2 linked regions of the Homo sapiens genome follow. The protein of the gene in region 1 purifies or fractionates together with the protein of each later gene. This does not show direct contact. Each region holds a gene or a part of one and is shown in the gene's direction. Other genes may lie near its edges.

Region 1 (7,734 bases):
TGCATTTTGCACAGACTGATTATTTAGCTGAACCATTGATTTCCAAGTATGAGCTCTTCTGAAATGCTATGATGAGGGATGCTTGCTTTGATTAACTTGTGTTTCCCTGACACCCCTGGGTTCAGATGAGAACTGAACAGTGAGGCTGATTATGAAGCTCCAAGCTTCTGTCCTTTCTTTATACTGAAATTTACCTTCATATAAACAAAAAGTGCCTCAGGAAAAACTCATAGCAGCTTCTGTATTTGAGCACTTTTCCTGGATGCTCCTAATTTTCATTTAGTAAAGGTAAATACTTGATTATTGGGCGACCAAACACTGGATGAGGAGGGAAAATGTTGCACAATCATTACGTATTTTGTAAGGTTTTCTATTCTGCATAAGTCTACCCATATTAAACCTTCCGACCCAGGGAGAGGGATTTGTCTTATTTGCTAATTTTGAGAGGCTTCAAACATATGTTTCCTTTAGACTGAATAATATTGTTAACAATAGCTTATTGAAAGTATGCCGGGTAGCCAATCTCAATCTAGGCACTTCGCATGCGTTCTTTCGTTTAATCCTCAGGCCACCCTTGAGGTTAGGTTAATTTTTTTTTTTTTGAGACGGAGTCTCGCTGTCTCCCAGGCTGGAGTGCAATGGCGCCATCTTGGCTCACTGCAACCTCCGCCTCCCAGGTTCAAGCTGTTCTCCTGCCTCAGCCTCCTAAGTAGCTGGGACTACAGGTGCGTGCCACCATATTCAGCTAATTTTTTGTATTTTTAGTAGAGACGGGGTTTCACCATGTTAGCCAGGATGGTCTCGATCTCCTGATCTCATGATCCGCCTGTCTTGGCCTCCCAAAGTGCTAGGATTACAGGCGTGAGCCACTGCGCCGGCCGAGGTAGGTTAATTTTTATTATGCTCATTTTACTGATGGGGAATTTCCCCCAAGGTCACAGAGCTAGGAAGTGGTGCAGTGTGTCTGCAGAGCCCACATTCTTAGCACAGAACAACACTGCAATGGAGCTGGGCAGTAGTAGACAAGTGGGACAAAAATACGGCATGGCTTCTTGACTATCGGCCATGTCACCTGAAACCCACACTGAGCCCTCACATCCATCATCTATGGAAGTTGTAGGTGTTAACGACTCCCATGTTAAAATCACATAAACATAGACATAGGCGCTCATACTCTATCCCTCATGTGGTGGATGGAGAGGAGCCAACACAGACAGGGACTCAAAGCTAGGCTCTGCCCTCTGACCCTGGACACGTTCCTTCGCCTGTCAGTCGCACTGGCAGCTCTTTCTTGCATGCTGCCCTGAGGACCAGAGGAGGCTGGTGCCACAGTGCCCCGCTAACGCCAGAGCAATAGCTTGTAAAACACCGGTATCTTTCCCTCCTCTCTCCTTCCTTAGTGCAAAGGAGGGCAGCGACTTGAATGCGGTAGGCCGCCCTCTGGGCCCTCTCCTGTCTGGGTTGCAGCTGGCGTTTCGTGTCTTGGCAGTAACACTGGCGTCAGGACTGTCACCGGATGGCCTGTTTTTCAGAAGGCTACCCCCATACAACCGAGTGGACACGAGTTTTCAAAAATATTTATTTGCTTATCTGCAAGGCAGGAGAGGAGGGAACAAAGTGATCGAGGACAAAATCAATTACTATTTTTCATCTTTGACAAAGTAATTAAGGCCGTAGTGACTGGCTAATTCAGACCGAATGGCTGCGCGGTGATGGATGCGGATTTACGGCCTCCTTGGCTGCGGCGCGCTGGGCCTGATTATCACTATAAACAGGCGTCCGCGGAGGGCGGGGGCGGAGGCCCGCGTCTAGAGGACGTGCGGCTGGTCTTCTTCTTCTTCTTCTTCTTTTTTTTTGTTTTTGTTTTTTAATACTGCGGTTCCATCCTCTGCGCTTCGTAGGCGCTGACACACACCCATACGCACGACCTGCTGCCCCAGGGCCTGGCTTCCTGCCTCCGCATGCTCTCTCCCGCCCCTGAAGCCCAACCTTCAAGCCCTGCTGATGCCCGCCCCTCCGTCCCAGCGTTGGCCTCATAGCGAACCCTCTTAGGCCTCTCCGTTCCAGACCCTCCCTCCATTCTCCACGTAGCCCCTCCCTTCTAGAATCTTGCGGCTGAAAGTGGGGGCAGGCGGGGAGCCCGAATAGCGCCTCAGCCAAACCCCGCAGCCGTTCCTGCGCGTCACCCGCCTCTGCAGAGCCTGACGCGCGGCAGTCTCCACGCCGGAACCCAAGTGCTCACTGGGCCGGGGAGGGCCAGCGGGCGAAATATCAGGCCTGGGGGCTGAGCGGGGGCGCTGGGCGTCACTCAGGCCCAGGGCCGCAGCTGGGGGAAGTGAGAAGGCCGGCAGGATTCTGCCCACTCTGCGCAGTTCTCCCTTCCTCCCGGGGCAGCCAAGTCTGTGCGCCCTGGAACGTCCGGGCGCCGCGTAGACTCTCCATTCGCACCTGGCCCTTTGCGGGGGCTGCTCAAATGCAAATTGGGAAACTGGCCAGAACCTTCCAAAGTCGTGACTGTCCCTCGGGGAAGTCGGCCGGGGAACCGCAGAGGGAGGCCTACACCGATCTTTGGGCCCGCCTCGTGGTACCGCTCCGGCCGATCGCTCTCTGAGCCCGAGCCTGCCTGCCAGGCCTGCCTTCTACAGTTCTCGCATTCGTCTTGAGCCCTCTCGGAAACTGGGGACTGTTTAGGCAGAAACACTCGTAGGTCCCCTTGGCGTCCCCCAAGATGCCAAGAGCCTGCGGGGTGCTTCTCAGCGCCAGCCGGAACTTGAGCAGGCACCCCTGCGGAATTCTCAGTCCCACCCACTCAGACGACCCTCCTCCAGCCAGAGTCCACCACAGCCCACCCTACCCTCTTAACCCTCGTTCCCGACCTCTCCCTACGAGCGGGCCCCGGGGAGAGAGCGACTGACCCTAGCGACAGCCCGGCGGGAGGTGGTTGGGATCTTCTCCAGGGTTCAAAAGCGACTTTCTGAGCCCCAATTTCCTCAGCTTTGCAATTGGTATAGTTTCTGAAAGGCCATTGCTAAATCTAACCGAGATAATTCATGGATATCCCTTGCACAATGGTTGAGTATTGAGATCTCAATAGACGTTAGCTCAAAACTGCAATAAAAAGCGACCTGAAATCCTCAAGGCGTCTCAAAAGAAAGATCTCCTCCTCCTGCCCCCACCAAAGGCAATGCAGACCGTGTGTCCCCAGCCAGCTGCCCTTTAGAGGGGCTAGGCGGGAAAGCCAACCAGCGGAGGCATCCAAACACTCTCGGGCTCTCCAGAGGAGCAGGAGGGTGCCCCTTAGTGCCCCCGGCGCCCGCCGCAATCTGCCACTGCAGCCTACGCCTGCGGCCGCGGCCGCCGCGGCATTGTCCTCCCGCCGCGTGGGACGGCCCAGCCGCTGGCGACGGCGCGCACCCCGAGGCAGTGGGCTGGGCTGTTGGCAGTAGGGAAGGGAAAACGTGCTGTCTGTGGCTCCTCATCCCCGAGGCCAGGGGTTCCCCGAGCTAGACCGGCAAGGAAGGAGAGAAGGGAAGCATTTTGCTGATAATCCCCTTCTAGTCTCCAAACTACACCTTCTTTGTAAAGGCGTTTTTTCCTCTTCTGATTATAGCTATTGCATTGTACACACAACAAGAAAGTCCATCTTTTTATCGCCATGGCCACCCCCACTCCCATCCCCGCCACAGTACGGTTGAACATCCTGGCATGGCTTTGCAGATTGCCAGCTCTCATTCCCCCTCCCCCGCATTGCTGGGCATCCCGATTTGGACGGTCTCTAAGGTCCCGCGCTGCCAAATCAGGCCTGGCTCTTGTAGGATTTTATTGAAAGGACTGTAAAGAAAGAATGGGTTTCCCTTGACTTTGAAAGTGACCTAAGAACTAGGTCTGTGTTGGAAAAACTTCGTTTTTCTTTCTCTAAAACGTCTTCAGAAAAGCTTAAAAATACAATGAAAAAGGTCAGTTATACTCAGAATTTTCTCTTGATTGTGATAACAGAAATAGGAACGGAAATACCAGATCACAATTTTTAAGCAAAAACCCCAGGATTCCTCCAAGACTGACTGTCTGGAAGGGTAGGGATGTGAGAATCTGAAGTCCACATACATGCTAGGTAGGTACACCTTGATAAATGCAGGACCCATGCCTGCTTCAGTCATCGCAGAGCTGTGGGGCTATGCGCAGACCCTCAACCTCTTTCGGAGTAATATTTTCGGAATCCCTGAAGATAAGGGGGGACAGCAATGGAATCTAGTGAAAGGGAAAGAATAGACAGTGATTTAACCCCCTCCTTCCTCCTCTACAGCCCGATCCACTCTGTTGGCGGCTGCGCCTTGCCTTGGGTGCAGTGGGACGTGTCCCTCCCATGTTTCCCTTAATTAGGAGGAGGCAAACTTCTGTCTTCCCCTCCTGCCGGTTTCGGTTTAGTAATCAGACCACATGAGTCACGCCAAACACGCAGCCCCCTCCCGCTGGAGTGACAACTGGCCAGCATACTCTAGGCTGTTGTCCCTTTAAAACTTGAATCCAAGGGGGTAATGATTTATCAAACTTGTATTATCAAGAAAATGTCAAACCAAGGGCACCTTGCTTTGCACTGACGCAAACCCGGCCTTTCCCAAGGAGATATAGAAAGCGCCTCTCCTGCCTGAGCCAAACCCAGTCTTGTCAATAGCGGGTTTCACCCTCCACCAGTTCAGTCTGTTGCCTGTGTCAGACATGGTGAGTGTTTGCTTTTGTTCTTTCAAGAGGAAAGGGGGCTGAGGGGACAGGGAAAGCAGATTCGTTTTGGCTATTTCTTTTGGAGATGTCTGTGCATTGGGTGGGGGGAAAGGGGGCGACGAGGAGAACAATTCTCGCAGCCCTAGGTATTTGTACTTGTGAGCGTCACCTGAGGTCGCAAAGAGGTTTCCTAGGCTGTAGAGCTGAGAGGTTGGCTGTGGCTCCTAAAGACCCGATCCCGGGCACTGTCCTCGGTGCTGAAAAGCCAGATGCCGGTACAGAGGCGAGTTGCTCTGGGTCCTAGAGGCTACTGAGACAAATGCTGGCTGAAGCCGAGGTACCTAGATTTGTGCAAATCGAGGAGTTCTATTCTGCGTGTTTGTGAAAGGGGGTTAGACGAGAGGAGTGCGGTGGAGGCGAAGATAATAGGATTATTCTTACAGTGTAATAATAATTATTGGTGCTAATGTTTAGGAAGCCGTGAAAGATAACACGAGGGGAGAAAGTGGATAGAAAAACCACCGCTGGCAGTTCTTTTCATTTGAAAGTGAATTGGGAAAAAGCGAATAAAAATTAGTCATGAGTTTTGGTACTCAAGCAAGCTTAGAGTTGTGAAGGATATTAGACTCCTGTGAATAGTTACGCAAAAAAGAAGAAGAGGAAGAAGAAGAAGAAGAAGAAGAAGAAGAAGAAGAAGAAGAAGAAGAAGAAGAAGAAGAAGAAGAAGAAGAAGAAGACCTAAACAAAAGAACAAAAAGCTTTGCATATTCTTTTCCATGTCTGGGAATCTGGAAGTGAATACGAGTTGTGTAAGATAACAAATCTAGTTACTACTCTGTGTCTTAAATTTAGTTTATTATCGTTGTAGGTTTTTTTGTGGTTATTTTGATCGTGATTCTTAACCTTGTCTTTGCTACCTGGCGGGAGGAGGTGGGTTGTGGAGCGCTGGGACTCAACCAATTTGGCCTCAAGCGCTCGCAGGTGCCAGGGCATCAGCTTTGTGGCCACAGCTTGTCTATGGGGGAAAAAGGCAGTGTGCATTGTTGAATGACAAAGGAAATGGGGCGGAAAATTAAAGAATCTTTCTACAGTGGTGATGGGGATGCGGGCACCCACAGCTGTGATGTGGAATCCAAAGAGGGAGGGGAGCTCATGACTCCAGGGCTATTTCCATTCCCCCTTTACCCTTACAAAATTACATTTCTACCTCTTTTCTTAGTTCATCCTCCACTAGGGAGGGAATATTAGCTTCTTTTTGTCATCTGGTTATTGATGAAACGGGCAAATTGAGAAATACTGATTGCAGCCTTTCTTTTAAAAAAAGTTCAGATTCCAATTTGCTTCCCCAGATATTGTGTCTGGACCTGAGTTGCGAACGTCTCCATATCTAGATACAGGTATTTTAAAAGCTGTTGTGACTTTGTTTTGCACGAACTTGACATTGTGTTTGCAGGATTGCAGTGCTCCCAAGGAAATGAATAAACTGCCAGCCAACAGCCCGGAGGCGGCGGCGGCGCAGGGCCACCCGGATGGCCCATGCGCTCCCAGGACGAGCCCGGAGCAGGAGCTTCCCGCGGCTGCCGCCCCGCCGCCGCCACGTGTGCCCAGGTCCGCTTCCACCGGCGCCCAAACTTTCCAGTCAGCGGACGCGCGAGCCTGCGAGGCTGAGCGGCCAGGAGTGGGGTCTTGCAAACTCAGTAGCCCGCGGGCGCAGGCGGCCTCTGCAGCTCTGCGGGACTTGAGAGAGGCGCAAGGCGCGCAGGCCTCGCCCCCTCCCGGGAGCTCCGGGCCCGGCAACGCGCTGCACTGTAAGATCCCTTTTCTGCGAGGCCCGGAGGGGGATGCGAACGTGAGTGTGGGCAAGGGCACCCTGGAGCGGAACAATACCCCTGTTGTGGGCTGGGTGAACATGAGCCAGAGCACCGTGGTGCTGGCCACGGATGGAATCACGTCCGTGCTCCCGGGCAGCGTGGCCACCGTTGCCACCCAGGTAAGCAGGTTGCATTACGGCCCGCACAGTGTCCTGCTCTCCAGCTGCGCGAGAGAGGCCAGCCGGGCCGTGGCGGGTGCACGTATGCTGATGGGGAAACCGGTTGGCAGTGCCAGGTGATGGATGCGGGAGGCGGCTTTGGGGCTTCGGAAGCTCGCACTGCGCTGGGGTCGGCAGTTCAGGGCGCGAGGGCTGCAGTGACCCTGCCAGAGGGGCCACGACCTGCCCCTTCCCAGCCTTGGCGGTAGCGGGAATACAGGTCCAGATCCACGAAAGAGTTGAGGAAGATAGATTCCACCCTTTTATGCAGACAGACTCCCTCTCCTGCCAATGACTGTCTTTTCTTTTCAAAAATAATTTCTTAATTAAACAAAAAGAGGGTTAAAATTCAGAACAAAGCCACGTGGTGGTGGCTGGGGATGGAGGGGTAGGAGGATAATAGTTTAAGTTTTGTAGCCTTTACACTGCCAGTTACCTTTATTACATGAGAACTCATTTGATGCGAGGTGGGTTTACCTGAGGCTACTGAAGCTTTAGTTTTGGGGCCTGTCCTTTGCCTGGGTCCTTCCAAAACCTGGTGTCTACTTTTGCCATAATTTTCTATTTTTTTCCCTAAAGTAACCTCCCTCAATTGTATAAGCTTCAAGCCCCACCAATCTTAATCCCCTCTTGCATTTGATCCTTTACTACTTAATTAGAGGCGTGAAAAACCCACAGAGCAAATCCCAATCCTTGGGTTATGAATAAAGGCAGCTTTTGCTGGTGGCCCACTCTCTCATATAGGCTTTTGTTCTCTTCAATTTCCCTCTCGTCTCTCTCCTTCCTTCTCTGATCTCTTCTTTCTTCTGTCCTTTTTCATCAACTTCAGCTCTTCCCTTCTCACTGCCTGCCTTTCTGCTATTTCCTCTCCTTTCCTGGCCTCAGGGGCTATGCATATATCCAGCAGTGGGGCCTGGACCAAAATTTGTGCCTGTGTGAGGTTTAGGATTTATACAACCCTTCTATCCTTAGTCACTTTAGTGTTT
Region 2 (7,000 bases), on another chromosome or scaffold:
GGGAAAGGCCTTGGATGGCTATATTTTTAACAAACTTCCTGGTTGATTTTAATGCATTGCCATGTTTGGGAGTTACAACTTTACATTTCCTATACTTTAGCTCCTAACAAATTAAGAATTTTTTCCCATCCCTACTATGTTGTTTGGCTGAGCTAATAAATCCCATAAGATATCCGAATGGATGGTTGTAAAATATGTTTCAAAGCTAAATGATATCATTAATTATGATATAAAAATTTGTCACAGAGCGAGTTTGCTGCACGCCTTAATAAAGTGGAAATGGAACGTCAGAATTTAGCAGAAGCAATTACACTGGCCGAAAGAAAATACTCAGATGAGAAGAAGAGGGTTGATGAACTGCAGCAGCAAGTCAAGCTGTATAAGTTGAACTTGGAGTCCTCTAAGCAGGAATTAATTGACTACAAGCAAAAAGCTACTAGAATACTGCAAGTAAGCATGAAATGTACACTTTTGGATGTTAAGATGTGCAAGTTAACTGAAAGGCAATTTGAGACTGTGTAGATACTGTGTGAGGTGCTTTGTTCATGTTCGTCTGATTGGCTAGCTTTAGGTGCCTTACTCTACTTTAGAAATTTTATTAAAGGATGCAGTGTTTCTTGTTCCTACCACTTCTTTTAAAAAAAAAATTCATTCTGCCACTGCCTAGTTCAGGTCTTCAACCTGTCACCTTACTCACTGTGATGATATTAATGCTTGTTGTTGAGCAGCTGTTTATTCTTCCTTGTTGATCTCCTATTGAATTTTTGCAGCAACTGCTTTAGGACTCATCCAGTTCTCAGAATTGTCTCACCCAGCTTTTTTTCCCCTCCTTCAGATCTAAGGTGATCTTACCCTCTACTTTACTAAGAAAGACTACAGTCATCTAATGTCGTTTTTGAATTCTCTTTCCTTTGTCCCTCAGAGGGAAAACATGTCCTTTCATTTTTTTCTAGGATCATTTTCCTGCCTGTGCATTGATTCCATCTCCCATCTCATGTGTAAGCCCTTTCTCCATAGATCTATGCCCTTCCTTCCTGTGTGTGCCTCTCTGCTGCTGCTGCCTTCTGGCTCAGCTTACTCAAGAGCACATGGTTATTTAGTGGAAAAATGAAGACTAGATCTCGGACTCCTGCCTAAGAGAAAAACAGTCTCTTTTAGCTTTGTGACCACTTTGCACTATTTCCCTATCTTCCTTTCTTTCAGTGTCATGCTTACCAGAATTGTGTACGTGCTGTCTTCATTTCTGTAGAACTTGTTAACTCTTATCTCCTTCTTTTCCTACTACATGTCTGAAATTTCTTCTCAAAAATATTTGATGACCTAAATAAATATTCTCTGTCCTTTTCTTAGTCTCCATACCTTGTATTTTGGTAGAACATTTGGCTCTGTTAACCCTCCCACTTCCTTGGAACTCCTGCCTTCTATGCTATTCACATCTCCTTGGCTCTCTTTTTGTCCTCTTCTACTGCTGTTTCTGTCTCTCTTGGGCGCTCTTCCCAATCTCCAAAGAGTCAGAGTCCTCCTAAGCTCTGTCCTGAACCCTCTTTCATTGTCCTTTCTTACCTTGCACTGCTGTATGCTGCCTCTGCTTCTAATAGCCGCCTGCATATGACTTCAAGCATGTTTCCAAGCCTGACCTCCTGACCTCAGTGCCCAGCTGCCTACTGTGCAGGCATGGAGTGTTCAGCTCCCAGACCAACTTCTCCCTCATTCTTCTGTTCTGGTCAACGTTACTGCCATGTGGCAGTAAAGCTTGAAACCTCAGGGTCATTTTTGACTTTACCTTTTTTCTTTAGTCTCAAACTTCTAATGGCTATGAATACCTTTTTTTAATGCTACTTCCATGAAGTATCATATTGATCTCCTCCTCAAACTCTTCTTTCTAAGTACTTTTTTGTATCACCCTAATTTGTTAATTCATTGAAAAGTTACTTATTGAGCACCTAACTACTCACTAGGCACAGAGGATACAAAGCTCAAAAGATGTGTCCTCTTCCTTTAAGAAAACATTCATCTTAGTGGAAAGAAACAGATAATTGACGTAATAAGGTTATTAATGCAGTACAATGGGAGCTTGAGAGAAGAATCCCTTAAAACTTGCCTGAGGCTGTCAAAGATCACTGGACTGAGGAGATGTGGTATAAAGAGAAACTTGAAAGATGAATAGGAAGACTCATGATAGGGAAGAGATTTCCGAGAGAACAACCTGTGCCAGAGCAAGGGGGCCAGAGAGAACATGGCATATTTAAGGGACTGCAGCTAGTTCCATACTGCTGGAACATAACGTCTTCAGAGATGGGAGGCAAAAGACTCATAAAGTTCAACGGCAGGCAGAAGCCATGGTCAGGTTTGAGTGTGAGAACTGTGGCAGCCTGATGAAAAGGTTAGGGGAGATTTGGGCCTCTGTCTTGTTCATCGTTGTATCCCCAGCACAGTGCCTGGTATTCGGTACATTGTTGAAAACATGGAAGTGATAAGGGGTGGCATCAATGGCATGTAGATGGTGAAGAGGTGATCATAAGAAATAATGAGGACCTGATCAAAGTTTTTGGCAGTGAGGATGGCAGGCAGGGGACAGCTAAGAGATATGTGGGAGATAGAATATATGACATGTGGAGATTTAACTGGAAGGATGGGGGAAAAAGGCAAATGGAATCCAGGATGACTCCAGGTTTTTGGTTTAAGTGTATGAATGATGTTTCCTTGTGTTAATAAAAGGGGAAACAGGAAAGAGAACAGGTTAGGGTTAAAGGAGAGTATGACGAATTATGGTAAGTATGCAAAATTGATGCAACATTGAGGTGACAATGTTAGAAAGGTAATTAGAAGTAAGTTGGGAGAGTAGGTAAGTTTAGGCAAGAGCGATGTGTAACCTAACGGGGAGAAAGGCTGAGGTCTAAAAACACAGTCTTAAACATCAGCATTTACAAATTGGGCAAAAGGATAGCCTGCAAAAGAAAAATACTGAGAAGGTGAGTGGTCAGAGATTGGAGAGAACCAGGAGGAGACTGATGCCATCCAATGAAGCCAAGCAGAGGGAGAGTTTCAAGTGGTGCATGATCACCAACCACAGCACGCGGCTCTGATGTGACAAGTCCCGAGCTAAATTCCTGGACTTGGCAACTAGGAGGTCCCTGGGGACCTCTCAACAGAGAGTTCCGGGGTGCGCTGGGAGCTGAAGACATGGAGGCAGGGTACTTGACCATGGACATGAGGACAGTAGCTAGATGGGGGAATGAGGTTGGGAGGTTTCTGGTTTTTTATTAAAAAAAATCTTAAAATGTTATAAATGATCATGTTTATTATAGAAAATTTGAAGAATACAAAAGAAGTTTGAAGAAGGAAATGGAAATAACCCATAATCCTACCACCCAGAAAAGGAAAAATTATTTTTGATGGAGGAGAATGACTTTAAAATATTTTAATTTAACGTGAAAGCTGCTGGTCCTTGTTGTTCCTAGTCTAGAATTAGGACTTTATAAACTGGTCTTTGCATGTCAAATCTCTTCTTCAAACTCATCTTTTATCTCAGGGGTCAGAAAACATTGAGAGGGTCAAATAGTAAATATTGTAGGCTATGTTGGCTACCTGTAGTCTCCATCACATATTCTTTGTCTTTATTATTTATGATCCTTTTAAAATGTAAAAAAAAAATTTAGCTTGCAGGCTGTACAAAAACAGGCCCACGGACCATCATTTGTGAGCACCTTCTTCATAGCACTGCCAGGTTAGCCTCCTAAAATGCATCTCTAGTCATGTCACTCCTCTCTCTACTTTTTGGTAATTTGTTTTAGCCTGCCATATAATATTAAAACATTTTAGCCTGAGATCAGGAGCCCCTCCAAATTGGTGCTAAAATACTATCTGAGCTGCATCTCACATTATTTTCTTACAGACTTTGTGTGCTTTTGCATTTTTATGCTTTGCTCTCTGTTTTTCTCTGCACTTTAAAAAAGTCTACCCATATTTCAAGGCCAACATTTATGCTCTCTTAAAGTCTCCTCTTACCCAGAAGTGGTTTTTCCTCTCAGAACTCTGCAAGTAATCTGACCATATCCTTTTCTCTACTTGTGTTGATTGCCTTCTGCTGGATACTTGTAACTTCTCTTTTAGTTTGTAAGGCAGAGGGTACTATCTATAGAGAGAGACATTATCTTTATTGCGCAGAACACTTAGCACCATTTACTTGTTGGGTAGAATGTGTTGGAAAATAAAAACTATGAGAAGAAAATGTGAGAAAAGTCTTGTTTGGCCAGGTGTGATGGCTCACTCCTGCAATCCCAGCACTTTGGGAGGCTGAGGCAGGAGAATTCCTGGAGGCCAGGAGTTCAAGACCGGCCTGGGCAACATAGCAAGACCGTATCTCAAATAAATAAACACAAATTTTTTTTAATCTTTTTTTTTTTTTTTTTTTTTTTAGACGGAGTCTGGCTCTGTCACCCAGGCTGGAGTGCGGTGGCGCGATCTCGGCTCACTGCAAGCTCCGCCTCCCGGGTTCACGCCATTCTTCTGCCTCAGCCTCCCTAGTAGCTGGGACTACAGGCACCTGCCACCATGCCTGGCTAATTTTTTTTGTATTTTTAGTAGAGACGGGGTTTCACCATATTAGCCAGGATGGTCTCGACCTCCTGACCTCGTGATCCGCCCGCCTCAGCCTCCCAAAGTGCTGGGATTACAGGCGTGAGCCACCGCACCCAGCTGGAAAAAAAAAATCTTATTCATAACAAGCTTTCAACTTTACCATGATTGTGGGGCTAAAGTCCAAGGACATTATACAGCAAGGCTCTGTTGTGTTTTTTATCCTTAGGGATTTAAGAAAATCTGTGGACTTTCTTTGATGGAGATAATGGAATTTTTTTTAGTGGGTTATTTTCTGTATAGTAGATGATATTCAATATACAAACTAATCTCTGCTTTGCTTAAACATATTTCTTCTTTTATAATAGTCTAAGGAAAAATTGATTAACAGCTTGAAAGAAGGCTCTGGTTTTGAAGGCCTAGATAGCAGCACTGCCAGTAGCATGGAGCTGGAAGAACTTCGGCATGAGAAAGAGATGCAGAGGGAGGAAATACAGAAGCTGATGGGCCAGATACATCAGCTCAGATCCGAATTACAGGTAAGATTCATGGTGGTTCAGCTTAGTAGACACCATTTACCCTCAGGTGTTAACAGTTTGAGAGGTGGGGAAACAGCATTACTAAAGCGATAGGTTTCTCGCTTCTCTTCGCTTCGCTTCGCTTCTCTTCTCTTCCTCCTCCTCTTCCTCTTCTCTTCTTTTGGAGTCAGGATCTTGCTCTGTCTCCCAGCCTGGAGTGGTGTGATCATAGCTCACTGCAGCCTCGAACTCCTGGGCTCAAGCAGTCTTCCCGCCTCAGGCTCCCAAGTAGGTGGAACTACAGGCACATGCCATCACGCCCAGCTAATTTTTATATTTTGTAGAGACAGGGTATCCCTGTGTTGTCCAAGCTGGTCCCAAACTCCTGGCCTCAAGTGATTGTCCCTCCTCAGCCTCCCAGAGTGCTGGGATTGCAGGGCTGTTGCAGCCCGTGCTGGGCTAAAGCAGTAGGTTTCTTTCTTTCTTTCTTTCCTTTCTTTCCTTTCTCTCCTTTCTTTCCTTCCTTTCTTTCCTTTCTTTCCTTCTTTTTTTTGAGATGGAGTCTCGGTCTGTTGCCCAGGCTGGAGTGCAGTGGCGTGATCTCGGCTCACTGCAACCTCCACTCCACCTGCCAGGTTCCAGGGATTCTCCTGCCTCAGCCTCTTGAGTAGCTGGGATTACAGACGTGCGCCACCACACCTGGCTAATTTTTGTATTCTTAGTAGAGATGGGGTTTCACCATGTTGCCCAGGCTGGTCTTGAACTCCTGACCTCAAGTGATCCGCCCACCTCGGCCTCCCAAAGTGCTGAGATTAGAGACGTGAGCCACCATGCCCGACCAGGTTTCTAATCCATAAGTTGACCATAAAGTTATGGTGATAAAAAACAGATCAATTCATTCAACAAATAGTTACCAAGTGCCTGCCATGTGCCTAGGTTTGGAATTAGAACAGGGTCTTCATAATTATAGATCTTACATTCTAGTGGTTAAAAGCAAATCAGATTTGAGCTCCTATGTGAAGCTGAGATGTTTTCTAATATTAGTATGGGCTCAGGGATGATCTTCTAATTACAGTTTTATCCTTATTCTTATAATTTATAGTTTATGTATAATTACTATATTTAAAAGTAAAGTTGGGCCATTTATTTTGCTTAAACTTCGGGGTCTTTGACATAAATATCGTAGGAAGGAGTCTCTGAAGGTGAGAGAAGATAAAGTGCAGCATAACGAGCTTCCTTTTCTTAAAAGGAAGAAACTTTTTGTAGAGAATGTTCATCCATGCATTAACTCTGCACATTGTGAGACTTGTGAACTACAAAAGAAAGCGTGAAAGTTGTGAGAATAGGATACCTTGTCTAGAGCATAGACTTGAATAGCAGACAGACGTGGATAGATTCTGTCTTTGGTACTTAACAGATGCTGCTTCCACAAGGCACTTCATCTTGCGGAGCTTTAATTTTCTCATCTATAGAATGCAGGTAAACAAAGGTTCTCTTGACAATAAAGGATAATATATGAAGAGCCTAGCATTGTTTCTGACATGTAATAGACCCTCAGTTAAATAATAGCTGCTATTATTTCTGGGTTTATTGTTATTCATTAAAGTAGGATTTTTTTTTTAATCTGTGAATTTGAATTCCAAAGAATTCAGTCCTGCAAACTTAGAAATTGGGTAGATGCTAAACTTACTCATATCTGTTCATGTCTTTTTGGTGAGATTATGAAAAATACTTGTTTTATTTAATATATCAGCATCATTAATGACATTGACCCATTTTCTTACCCTTCTCAAAATTTATGCAATGTATAATAAGTGTTAGGTCTAACAAAATGAAAGAATTGTAAATAATTACAATAGCTATTGTTTACTGAGCACGTATGTTCCAGATACTGCACAGAGCAC

What was found. Proteins that work in one complex are often made in the same cells at the same time.
Region 2: the proteins of SLC6A5 (region 1) and GOLGA5 purify together in Homo sapiens (affinity purification with mass spectrometry; 2 studies listed by BioGRID and IntAct, with this or other methods). This does not show direct contact.

Annotation. Positions count from the first base shown.
Region 1 is NC_000011.10:20,594,957-20,602,690, forward strand, and holds the start of SLC6A5 (sodium- and chloride-dependent glycine transporter 2), read left to right. Parts: upstream 1-4,651; 5' UTR 4,652-4,716; coding exon 4,717-4,719; intron 4,720-6,172; coding exon 6,173-6,709; intron 6,710-7,734.
Region 2 is NC_000014.9:92,811,305-92,818,304, forward strand, and holds part of GOLGA5 (golgin subfamily A member 5), read left to right. Parts: intron 1-246; coding exon 247-450; intron 451-4,946; coding exon 4,947-5,117; intron 5,118-7,000. UniProt on the Homo sapiens protein: Involved in maintaining Golgi structure. Stimulates the formation of Golgi stacks and ribbons. Involved in intra-Golgi retrograde transport.